3 linked regions of the Homo sapiens genome follow. The protein of the gene in region 1 interacts with the protein of each later gene in a pairwise test. Each region holds a gene or a part of one and is shown in the gene's direction. Other genes may lie near its edges.

The links. Proteins that work in one complex are often made in the same cells at the same time.
Region 2: the proteins of SUGP1 (region 1) and RBM17 interact in binary tests that used the Homo sapiens proteins (3 or more experiments, as listed by UniProt).
Region 3: the proteins of SUGP1 (region 1) and RBM10 interact in a two-hybrid assay, tested with the Homo sapiens proteins (one large-scale study listed by BioGRID and IntAct).

What each region holds. Positions count from the first base shown.
Region 1 is NC_000019.10:19,275,533-19,279,021, reverse strand, and holds the end of SUGP1 (SURP and G-patch domain-containing protein 1), read left to right. Parts: intron 1-225; coding exon 226-332; intron 333-1,142; coding exon 1,143-1,288; intron 1,289-1,945; coding exon 1,946-2,075; intron 2,076-2,347; coding exon 2,348-2,374; 3' UTR 2,375-2,989; downstream 2,990-3,489.
Region 2 is NC_000010.11:6,092,034-6,095,533, forward strand, and holds part of RBM17 (splicing factor 45), read left to right. Parts: intron 1-3,500. UniProt on the Homo sapiens protein: Splice factor that binds to the single-stranded 3'AG at the exon/intron border and promotes its utilization in the second catalytic step. Involved in the regulation of alternative splicing and the utilization of cryptic splice sites.
Region 3 is NC_000023.11:47,148,221-47,151,720, forward strand, and holds part of RBM10 (RNA-binding protein 10), read left to right. Parts: intron 1-3,500. UniProt on the Homo sapiens protein: Binds to ssRNA containing the consensus sequence 5'-AGGUAA-3'. May be involved in post-transcriptional processing, most probably in mRNA splicing. Binds to RNA homopolymers, with a preference for poly(G) and poly(U) and little for poly(A).

The sequences.
Region 1 (3,489 bases):
AAAGGAGCAGTCCTGACATCGTGAGGGTGGAGAGCTGCACAGGGTTCACTAAATGCTGGGCTGCCTCACCAGGCAGAGGCTCGGGCTGGGGTCATGGCCTAGCCGCCTCCTTCCCTGGGGGCCCCAGGCTCCCACTGAGCCTCATACCTGTGCCCTGGGAGCCACCAGGCCTGCTCCCCTCCTTCCTGCTTCTCCCTCTTCTCACCTTTCTGCTTCTCTGAGCAGAATGGGCCGAGCAGCTGACAAAGATGGGCCGGGGCAAGCACTTCATCGGAGACTTCCTGCCTCCAGACGAGCTGGAAAAGTTTATGGAGACCTTCAAGGCCCTGAAGGTGAGCCAGGAGGGGCCCTAGCTCCAGCCTCTGCCACATGCCAGCCCCTCCTGTAGCTGCCTCACCCTGCAGGTGCCCAAAGTAGCCTGGCTACCCTCTCGATCACAGCAGGAGCCAGGCCTTTTCGCTGCAGGAGGCATCTGTTAATGACAGGCGCCGTCTGTGTAGGGAATTAGCAAACAGCAGCTCAGCTGCTGCCTCAGAAACATTTCCTGGGGCTGCGGGGGAAATTTTGCTTCCAGTGGAGCCAATTAAGTGCAGTTTACAGGCAAAGTGTTTCTCCGGCAGAAGTCCCCACGGACTGGCCTCTCCAGAACCAGAGTTTAACATTCTGCCTCTGCTGCTGTTGGGCTCCTGAGGAGAGAGGGCTGACATGGCACGTCCCCCATTATCTTTTTGAGGTTTTTTTATAAAACTGTTCAGGGCCTGATAACCTCATTAGTGAGGTGGTAACCTCGTTGTCCATCTCTTATTAGTACCTTGTACAACAAATTGCTCTCAGGACATGAACACGGGGCTTCTCTTTGCCAGTGAACCATTGCTTTATCTCAGGTGGATAAGGCCTGTGTAACTCATCCTCTTGCCCTTTTGACTTGGCCACCAGGGGTGCACAGTTTGGCACTAAGGCCCCGGGGACCCTGAGAAGCAGGAGGAGCTTGGTCTGTTTGTTCTCAAGGAGTCTGATCTGGTGAGAGGGAGGCAGATGGGCCACTGGTCCCAGCACTGATTGAAACCAAAGGCAGAAGGTTGGATTTGGGGGCCACCACAGCCCCAGCCCTGGTGGGTGACAGCTACCTCCTCACCTTGCAGGAGGGCCGTGAGCCTGACTACTCAGAGTACAAGGAGTTCAAGCTGACTGTGGAGAACATCGGCTACCAGATGCTGATGAAGATGGGCTGGAAGGAGGGCGAGGGGCTGGGCTCAGAGGGCCAGGGCATCAAGAACCCAGTGAACAAGTGAGTGTGGCCTTGTGGGAGGGCATGGCCATGAACTTGGGGTCTGTGGGTCCCCTGCCGCCTCCCCATTCCCACCCCTTTATGTCATCGCTTTTCCCTTGTGGCAAAATGATCACAGCACCCCACTGCACACCCCTTGTCAGGCACAGGCCTGCAGTGCAGGAGGCCATACGGGCTGGGTCCTCCCCAGTCCCAGGGCCTCCTTCCGTCCCCTCATGAGTATCTCCAGGCCAGATGGGGTGGGTGAGGGTACAGATGGGTCAGGCCTTGTCTGCCTTGTGAAGGGCCTTATTTGAATTCCCCATGAGTGCGAAACCACTCCCAGAGATGGGCAGGAGCTCTCCCAGGTGTGACCCTGGCCCCGAGTGCCCCCTTCAAGGCTGTCCTTGAGTAACCATCCTGCCATCCCAAGAGCTGCGACAACTTGCACTGTGGGCTCCTCCTTCCTGTGTGGGACCCTGGGGCCTAGGCCCCCCCCCCCCGCCCGCCCCGGGGGTCTCCCCTCCTTGACCATTCAGGTTCAAGCTTCTCTCTGTGCAGATATGTCCCAGCCCAGCCCTGCACCCGCGGGAGGTGCTGTTGAGAGCCCAGCTGTGCCCGGCCCCCCGGCCAGAGTTCTGGCCCCAGGTCCCTGCTCACATCCTCTTCTCCCTGTAGGGGCACCACCACAGTGGACGGCGCTGGCTTCGGCATTGACCGGCCGGCGGAGCTCTCCAAGGAGGACGACGAGTATGAGGCGTTCCGCAAGAGGATGATGCTGGCCTACCGCTTCCGGCCCAACCCCCTGGTACGCATGTCCTCCTGGGCTGCCTTTGCTCAGTCGACAGGAGAGGGTGGTGGTAGGAACAGAAGGCTCCCTTCCTTCCTCAGTCCAGCCAGGCTGGGTCTCACCAGCGAGCCCCCTACCACCCACCTGCATTCAAGCCCCCACCCGTCCCCCAAGCCTGCCCTGCCACCTCAAGGGTGCGGGCTCAGCTGCCTCCGGAAGGTTCCAGACAGGAGGAACTGCTGTCTTTAGTGCTAATCCCCTCCTCCTGTTATCTGTTTTGCCTTCCACAGAACAATCCCAGACGGCCTTACTACTGAGTGTTCTGGAAATACATACTTTCTGAATGACCAACCGTCCCTGGACTGTGGAATGTTCCGGCCTGCATTTCTGCCCACCCCTTCCGTTGTCACGAGTGCCGTGCCGTGTAATAAAGTCCCAGTGCTCATCCACCACAGATGCCTGGTCCTGTTGCAGGAAGCCCCTCCTGTTAGCAGCGGGATGCAAGATGCTGTCTCGGGGCTCTCCTTATTGGCCTGTGGAGTCTCCATCCCCGCTCAGCCTGGGTTGCACTGGAGGGGAGGAAGAAAGTTGTTTTCAGCATAGTAAAGCTGGAAGGCCAGGTGCAGTGTCTCACCCCTGTCATCCCAGCACTTTGAGAGGCCAAGGCGGGCGGATCACTGGAGGTCAGGAGTTTAAGACCAGCCTGGCCAACATGGTGAAATCCTGTCTCTACTAAAAATATAAAATTAGCTGGGCATGGTGGTGCACACCTGTCGTCTCAGCTACTCGGGAGGCAGAGGCAGGAGAATGGCTTGAACCTGGGAAGCGGTTGCAGTGAGCCAAGATTGCGCCTTTGCACTCCAGCCTGGGCAAGAGAGCAAGACTCTGTCTCAAATAATAATAATAATAATAAAGCTGGAGACTTGGCCACACCTGGGCTAAAGGAATGTCAGGAACCTCCGAGCCTAGCACTGTGCTGCAGAGGGAGGTTGGGGAGGGGTCTCCAGGCAGGGCCCCACCTTCCCTCAGACCTGTGGGGGCAGGTGGCTTCTGGGCACACCCATGTGCTCTCCTGGCAGGTGGTGCTGGCACGGCCCAGCACACAGGTGTTGGCTGTGGCCCTTCAGGTCCCACCAGTGTGGTAGGCACACGAGTCCCTGGGGCTTGTGTCGTTAGGGGACAGCCGCATGGATGCATGGATGTGCCATGCCAACATGTCAGGCAGCTCCTAGAAGGAAGGGCCTCAGAGCCGGAGGTTTTGAGGCAGGAGGGTAGCCCAGGCCACAGTGTGTGCCAAGACCCCCACATCTGCCCCAGGGCCAGAGCCCCACATTTGTGCCTAAGTCACCCTGGGGATCTTGTTAAGCTGCAGCTGCCGAGTCAGCTGGTTGGGCAGGGCCCTGGGAATTTGCATTTCCATCTGCCCCCACCC
Region 2 (3,500 bases), on another chromosome or scaffold:
CTGGCAGAACCATGTTTGTTATGTTTCCTAAGAAAAAATGTAGCATATATGAAACGTGGGTTGCTCAAAGGGAAGTGTTGCCACAAAAAGGAAGGAAATAGCAAATATTTTAAAGTTATAAAAACCAGCAATTTGTATTTACTTTTGATCCTGGCTTCTTATGGTATATCCAGTTGTTACAAAGTACAGCTTTTTGTTACCTGGCAGCAGACCTAATGAAATAAATGTGTTATGTTGTCTAAGTAATAATGTCAACGTTAATTAGGGTAAGTTTGGGTCTTGGCAGTCTTATTAATGTACTTATTACATTTCAGTAGTTGCGGTGGGGAGAATTAATGAACAAACTATTGTATATTAAATGCTTAATATAGCGAAAATAAAGAATACACACTTTTTAAGGAATAGATTAACTAAAACTGTAAATAAAATTAACATAAAAGGAGGAAAGCAAGGAAATAATGAGAAGAGGATTCCGGGGAAATTACATGAATGGGTTGGGGGAGTAGTATGGTTGAGTGTGGTTTCTTAGTCTAGATCCTGTCTTGTTTTGGGTGGTGAATTCACAGGTGCTTGCAGCATTATAATAATTAAACAAAAGCAGGTAATAAGTGTGTGAATGGATGAGAGTGTGATGTTACTATGATTAATCCCATTCTGTGAACTTAAAATTCAGTGAAAATGAGAAAAACGAAGAAAGCACTTTTGCATTTGCTGTGATGCAGAGATTTGATTTTATAAGCTCAATGTTACAGAAAACTAGCAGGTGCTGGTAAGATGACATCAGTTTCTAATATTTAAAGCGTTTTGCAGGTTTGAGAAGAGAAATGAGGACCTTTAAATGAGCATGAGATTTGCTGCCTGATGATTTCTGAAACTTTTGCGCAATGCAGCAAATCAACTGGAATTGTCAGTCAGCCATCTTAAATGACATGGAATCAGAGGAGATGTGTGGTCTCATAAAATCTCATTAATTCACTATTTAATTTTTGCTAAATATTGAATCTATTGATGGAAGAACTGTTGGCAGCTGAGATCTAGTACACTGCTAGATTTTTAGCCTCAAAGTTTAGAGAACTCTTTTCATCAGAGTTGACTCTTCTGGGGAGGGTGAGGAGTGTTGCCTCCCTCTCTGGGGGTTACTTCCTTCCCTTATTCCCCAGTGCTGCCTCTTTGCCTATTTATTTTTTATTTTATTTTTTTGAGACAGTCTCGCTCTATCATCCAGGCTGGAGTGCAGTGGTGCAATCTTGGCTCACTGCGACCTCCGCCTCCCGGGTTCAAGCAATTCTCCTATCTCACCCTCTTGTCTCAGCTGGGACAGGACTACAGGCGTGCAGCACCACACCTGGCTAGTTTTATATTTTTAATAGAGATGGGTTTTCACCACGTAGGCCAGGCTGGTCTCAAACTCCTGACCTCAAGTGATCCGCCCGCCTCGGTCTCCCAAAGTGCTGGGATTACAGGCATGAGCCACCGCAGCCGGCCCATTATTAGTATTTTAATAAAGCTTATTAAATGCTTGCTATATGACAGAAATTGTAGATGCAAAAATAAATAAGTGAATCTTTCCCCTCGAAGTTTAATGGGCATTTGGTTAACCCATTTCTGGTGGCACTAACGTATTCATAAACACTTTCGGTAAAGTTCTCAAGTTATAAAGAGAAATGGGTTGAGTATCCCTTACCCAAAATGCTTGGGACCAGAAGTGTTTCAGATTTCGGATATTTTTAGATTTTTAGAATGCCTGCATATACATAATGAGATACCTTGAGGATGCGACCCATGTCTAAACACAAAATTCATTTATGCTTCATATATACTTTCTACACATAGCCTGAATATGCAATATATGTCATACTTTTAATAATTTTATGCATGCAAAAAGATTTCACTCTGTTTTTGACTGTGACCCATCACATGAAGTCAAGTGTGGAATTTTTTTTTTTTTTTTTTTTTTTTGAGACAGAGTCTCACTCTGTCACACAGGCTGGAATGCAGTGGTGCAATCTTGGCTCACCGCAAGCTCTGCCTTCTGGGTTCACGCCATTCTCCCGCCTCAGCCTCCTGAGTAGCTGGGACTACAGGTGCCCGCCACCATGCCTGGCTAATTTTGTTTCTGTATTTTTAGTAGAGACGGGGTTTCACCGTGTTAGCCAGGATGGTCTCGATCTCCTGACCTCGTGATCCACCCGCCTCAGCCTCCCAAAGTGCTGGTATTAGAGGTGCGAGACACCGCACCCGGCCTGGTGTGGAATGTTCTACTTTGGGGTCATGTTGTTGCTCGGAACGTTTTAGGTTTTGAAGGATTTCAGATTTTCATACTGGAGATAGTCTGTATTGAGAAAAGCAAATATCTAGAGTTTAGTTTGAGTTGCAAACAAATTTTGATTTATCTTTGTGATTTCCCAGAAAGTCGCATTGTTTATTTCTCAGAATCTGTTAGTATTCCCTTTCCATTTTAAGAATAAAGAAAGAACAGAAGAACCTGTAGTTCAGTAGGCTTTGGTTTGCTGACCAGTTGGATGAAGAGGGCTCAAAAGATTAAACTAAGTTAGATGAAAGGTGCATGGTCATTTCTGAAGAAATGTGTTTGGGAGCCACAGTGCTAAGCTGGACACTCAGCATGGTTTTTCTGTGCTGTTGCTCTGTTTGAGTTTTCTTAGATTAAAATTTAAGGGTATGTATCTAGATGTGAACAATGAGTTTTGAGTTCTGGGTAAGCTGGAAGAAAAGTGTACAAAAGCCTCAAAAGCTGTTTGGTGCAGTGTTGTTCCTTCTGGCCAGTGATTATTGGCCAGAAATTTCTAATTGAGAGGGCTTCGCAAATGGAGTATAAACTGCAGTTTGGCCTCATTTCCTATTTAGCTGTGGGTTGGATATTGATCTTAGTCTGGGGATAGAGCAGTGAACAGAACAACCTGGATCTAGGTTTTCTTGGAGTTCAGAGTTATTAAACTAGGCTCTGAAGTGGACATCAGGGGATTCCCTCCAAGACTTTGAGGACATGGTTATATTTCATCCATATTTCTTAAGGAATGGAGTTCATTATTTTTTCTTGATTTGGCCTCAGTGCTTCAGGCCTGTCACGAGACATCCCCAAGTTCCTGAAAAAGGTCAGTTTTGCACTGAAGACATCTATCAGGAGGAGAGTCTGTCTGCATCCCGGCATCCCTTCATTCTTTTCTTTTCTTTTTTTTTTGGCGGAGTCTTTATCTGTCACCCAGGCTGGAGTGCAGTGGTGTGATCTTGGCTCACTGCAACATCCATCTCCCGGGTTCAGGCGATTATCATGCCTCACCCTCCGGAGTAGCTGGGATTACAGGCACCCACCACCACGCCCAGCTAATTTTTGTATTTTTAATAGAGACAGGTTTTCACCGTGTTGGCCAGGCTGATCTCTTAACTCCTGACCTCAAGTGATCCGCCCACCTATGCCTCCCAAAGTGCTGGGATTACAGGCGTGAGCCACCGTGCCTGACCATCCCTTCATTCTTATGTGA
Region 3 (3,500 bases), on another chromosome or scaffold:
TATTTTGTTTTCTGAAAAGTGAGCCCAAATTTGAGATAAGGTCATCACCTAGTGTTATTCAGTCTTGGCTTTCATTAGAAATGTTTTTTGAAAGACATTTGATTTTGGACGGTATTCACTAGAAGTGCTCTGTGGCCATTTCTGAATTTGAGTAGCTGACATACATACTTTGTTCAAACTTTATTACCAAGTAAAACCATTGACTTTTAAAAGCCCTCAAGTGCAGAGGTTTGAGTTCATCATACTTTCCAGTTCAAGGTAGGTTTCTGTCATAGGTCAGCAAAAGGCTTCCTCTTGTCATGTTTATTTTTTCATTTTTATTCCCAATTCCCACCTCTGTGGGCAGCTGCTCTGTCGTGTTTGATATGTATCCTTCTATGATACATATCATAGAAAATGTATCCTTCTATGATACATATCATAGAAAATGTATCCTTCTATGATACATATCATAGAAAATGTATCCTTCTATGATACATATCATAGAAAATGTATCCTTCTATGATACATATCATAGAAAATGTATCCTTCTATGATACATATCATAGAAAATGTATCCTTCTATGATACATATCATAGAAAATGTATCCTTCTATGATACATATCATAGAAAATGTATCCTTCTATGATACATATCATAGAAAATGTATCCTTCTATGATACATATCATAGAAAATGTATCCTTCTATGATACATATCATAGAAAATGTATCCTTCTATGATACATATCATAGAAAATGTATCATAGATTTATCATATAGATCATTTTCATATAAATGTATCATATAGATACATGTATCATATAAATACATACATAAATGTATCATATAGATACATTTTCATAGAAAATGAAAATATGAAGTGTTGTTTTGAGTGACTGTGTTTTCAGTTGACACACATGGCATGGTGCCACAGTCTTCGTTTTGTTTCCTGAACTTTGTATTACTCAGAGTGGGAGGTTTTTTTTGTTTTTTGTTTTTTGTTTTGAGACAGGGTGTCTCTATGTTGCCCAGGCTGGTCTCAAACTCCTGGGCTCAGGCAATTCTCCTCCCTTGGCCTCCCAAAGTGCTGGGATTAAAGGCATGAGCCGCTGTAACTGGCCAACAGTGCTGTTTTTTTTTGTTTGTTTGTTTTGTTTTGTTTTGTTTCTTTGTTTTGAGAAAGAGTTTCACTCTTGTTGCCCAGGCTGGAGTGCAATGGCGCAGTCTTGGCTGACCACAACCTCTGCCTCCCGGTTTCAAGCGATTCTCCTGCCTTAGCCTCCCACATAGCTGGGATTTCAGGCATGTGCCACCACGCCTGGCTAATTTTGTATTTTTAGTAGAGATGGGGTTTCTCCATGCTGGTCAGGCTGGTCTCGAACTCTCGACTTCAGGTGATCCTCCCATCTTGGCCTCCCAAAGTGCTGGGATTATGGGCATGAGCCACCACACCCGGCACAGTGCTGTATTTTTAACATCTGTCTGTATTGCCATGTATATGTTACTACTTTGTTTCTAATTGCTGGCAAGGGCATCATGGGGCATGTCTACTGAGTTTTACTTAATACTTCCCCCAAGAGTAGATGCCTGTTGTTAATTTTGATGTGCTAGCATCATTTTTTTTTTTTTTTTTTTTGAGACGGAGTTTCGCTCTTGTTGCCCAGGCTGGAGTACAATGGCGCGATCTCGGCTCACCACAACCTCCACCTCCCAGGTTCAAGCAATTCTCCTGCCTCAGCCTCCCAAGTAGCTGGGATTACAGGCATGCGCCACCACGCCCAGCTAATTTTTTGTATTTTTAGTAGAGATGGGGTTTCTCCATGTTGGTCAGGCTGGTCTCGAACTCCTGACCTCAGGTGATCCGCCTGCCTCGGCCTCCCAAAGTGTTGGGATTACAGGCGTGAGCCACCGTGCCCAGCCCAACGTCACCTTTTTTGCTTTATCTGTTAATGTATAGTGTTTTTTGTTTGTTTGTTTGTTTGTTTTGAGATGAGTCTCGCTCTGTCACCCATGCTGGAGTGCAGTGGCACGATCTCGGCTCACTGCAAACTTCGCCTCCCGGGTTCACACCATTCTCCTGCCTCAGCCTCCCGAGTAGCTGGTGCTACAGGCGCCCGCCACCACACCTGGCTAATTTTTTGTATTTTTAGTAGAGATGGGGTTTCACTGTGTTAGCCAGGATGGTCTCGATCTCCTGACCTGGTGATCCACCCGCCTTGGCCTCCCAAAATGCTAGGATTACAGGTGTGAGCCACTGCGCCCAGCCTAATGTAGTTTTTACCTTTTGCATTCAGATCTTTAATCCATCTAGATTCCACTCTTGAATATGGCATACGGTAGGCTCCGGTTTTATTTTCTTCCATATAGTAGGCAGTTTTTCCAGTACCACCTCCTAAATAGTCCATTCTTTCTTTATTGATCTGTGGTACCTCATCTGATTTCAGGTTCCCTCATGTACATGGATCCGTCTTGAGTGATGTGATTTGTTCCATTGGTCTATTTGCACATTCTTGTGCCAGCACCTTACTGTTTTTATTATTATGGCTTTATAGAATGTCTTAGTAGCTCCTTTGCACTTATTTTTCAAAGCTGGTTTAATCATTTATGGGGCTTTATTATATATCAAAAGTTATCAAAGTCCCTCAAAAACAACAAGAATTTTGATCGATGTTACACTGAACTTCTCTATTAATTTGGGGAAAATTATCTTTGTAAGTAGTCATTTCATCTAAGACCTTTGTAGAGAATATTTTGAAATTTATGTAAAGAGCATAAAAAGCTTTCATTTTCATAAATGGAAATACAGGTCTTATGTATTCTTTGTTAAAGTAATCCCTAGGTACTTCAGTCACTTTCATTATCTTTTTTTTTTTTTCTCGAGACTTGGTCTTGCTCTGTCACCCAGGCTGGAGTGCAGTGGCGACCTCCACAGGCTCAAGTGATCTTCCTACCTCAGCCTTCCAAGTAGCTAGGACTACAGGCACGCACCACCACGCCCAGCTAATTTTTTGTAGAGACGGAGTTTCACCATGTTGTCCAGGCTGATCTTGAACTCCTGAGCTCCAGCAATCCACCCACCTTGGCCTCCCAAAGTTCTGGGATTACAGGCCATTATCTTATTTTTTAAAAAATATTTTTCATGCTGGTATTTGCTGGGGTAGAGGAAAGCTGTTGATTTCTGTAAGTTACCCCTGCTGTATGCCCTTATTATTTCTAATACTTCATTGTTGATTCTGATGTTCTTTCTAAGTAGTTGGTCATATTGTATGCAAATCTATCCTGTCACTTATTTATTTTTCTTCATTTATAGTATTGTCCAGGACTTTTAGTACCATATTAAATAGTATAAGTGATACTGGGTACACAAATTAAGATTTACTTTGGCTGGTTGTGGCAGAAAGTCCAAAGGATAATGGCTTAGACAAGATAGTTTACTTTTCTTTCCCATAAAGGCAGTCTGCAGAAGAGCAATTAATCTAGGGCTGACAGGCAGCCCCTTCTGTGTAGCCATCCTCAGCA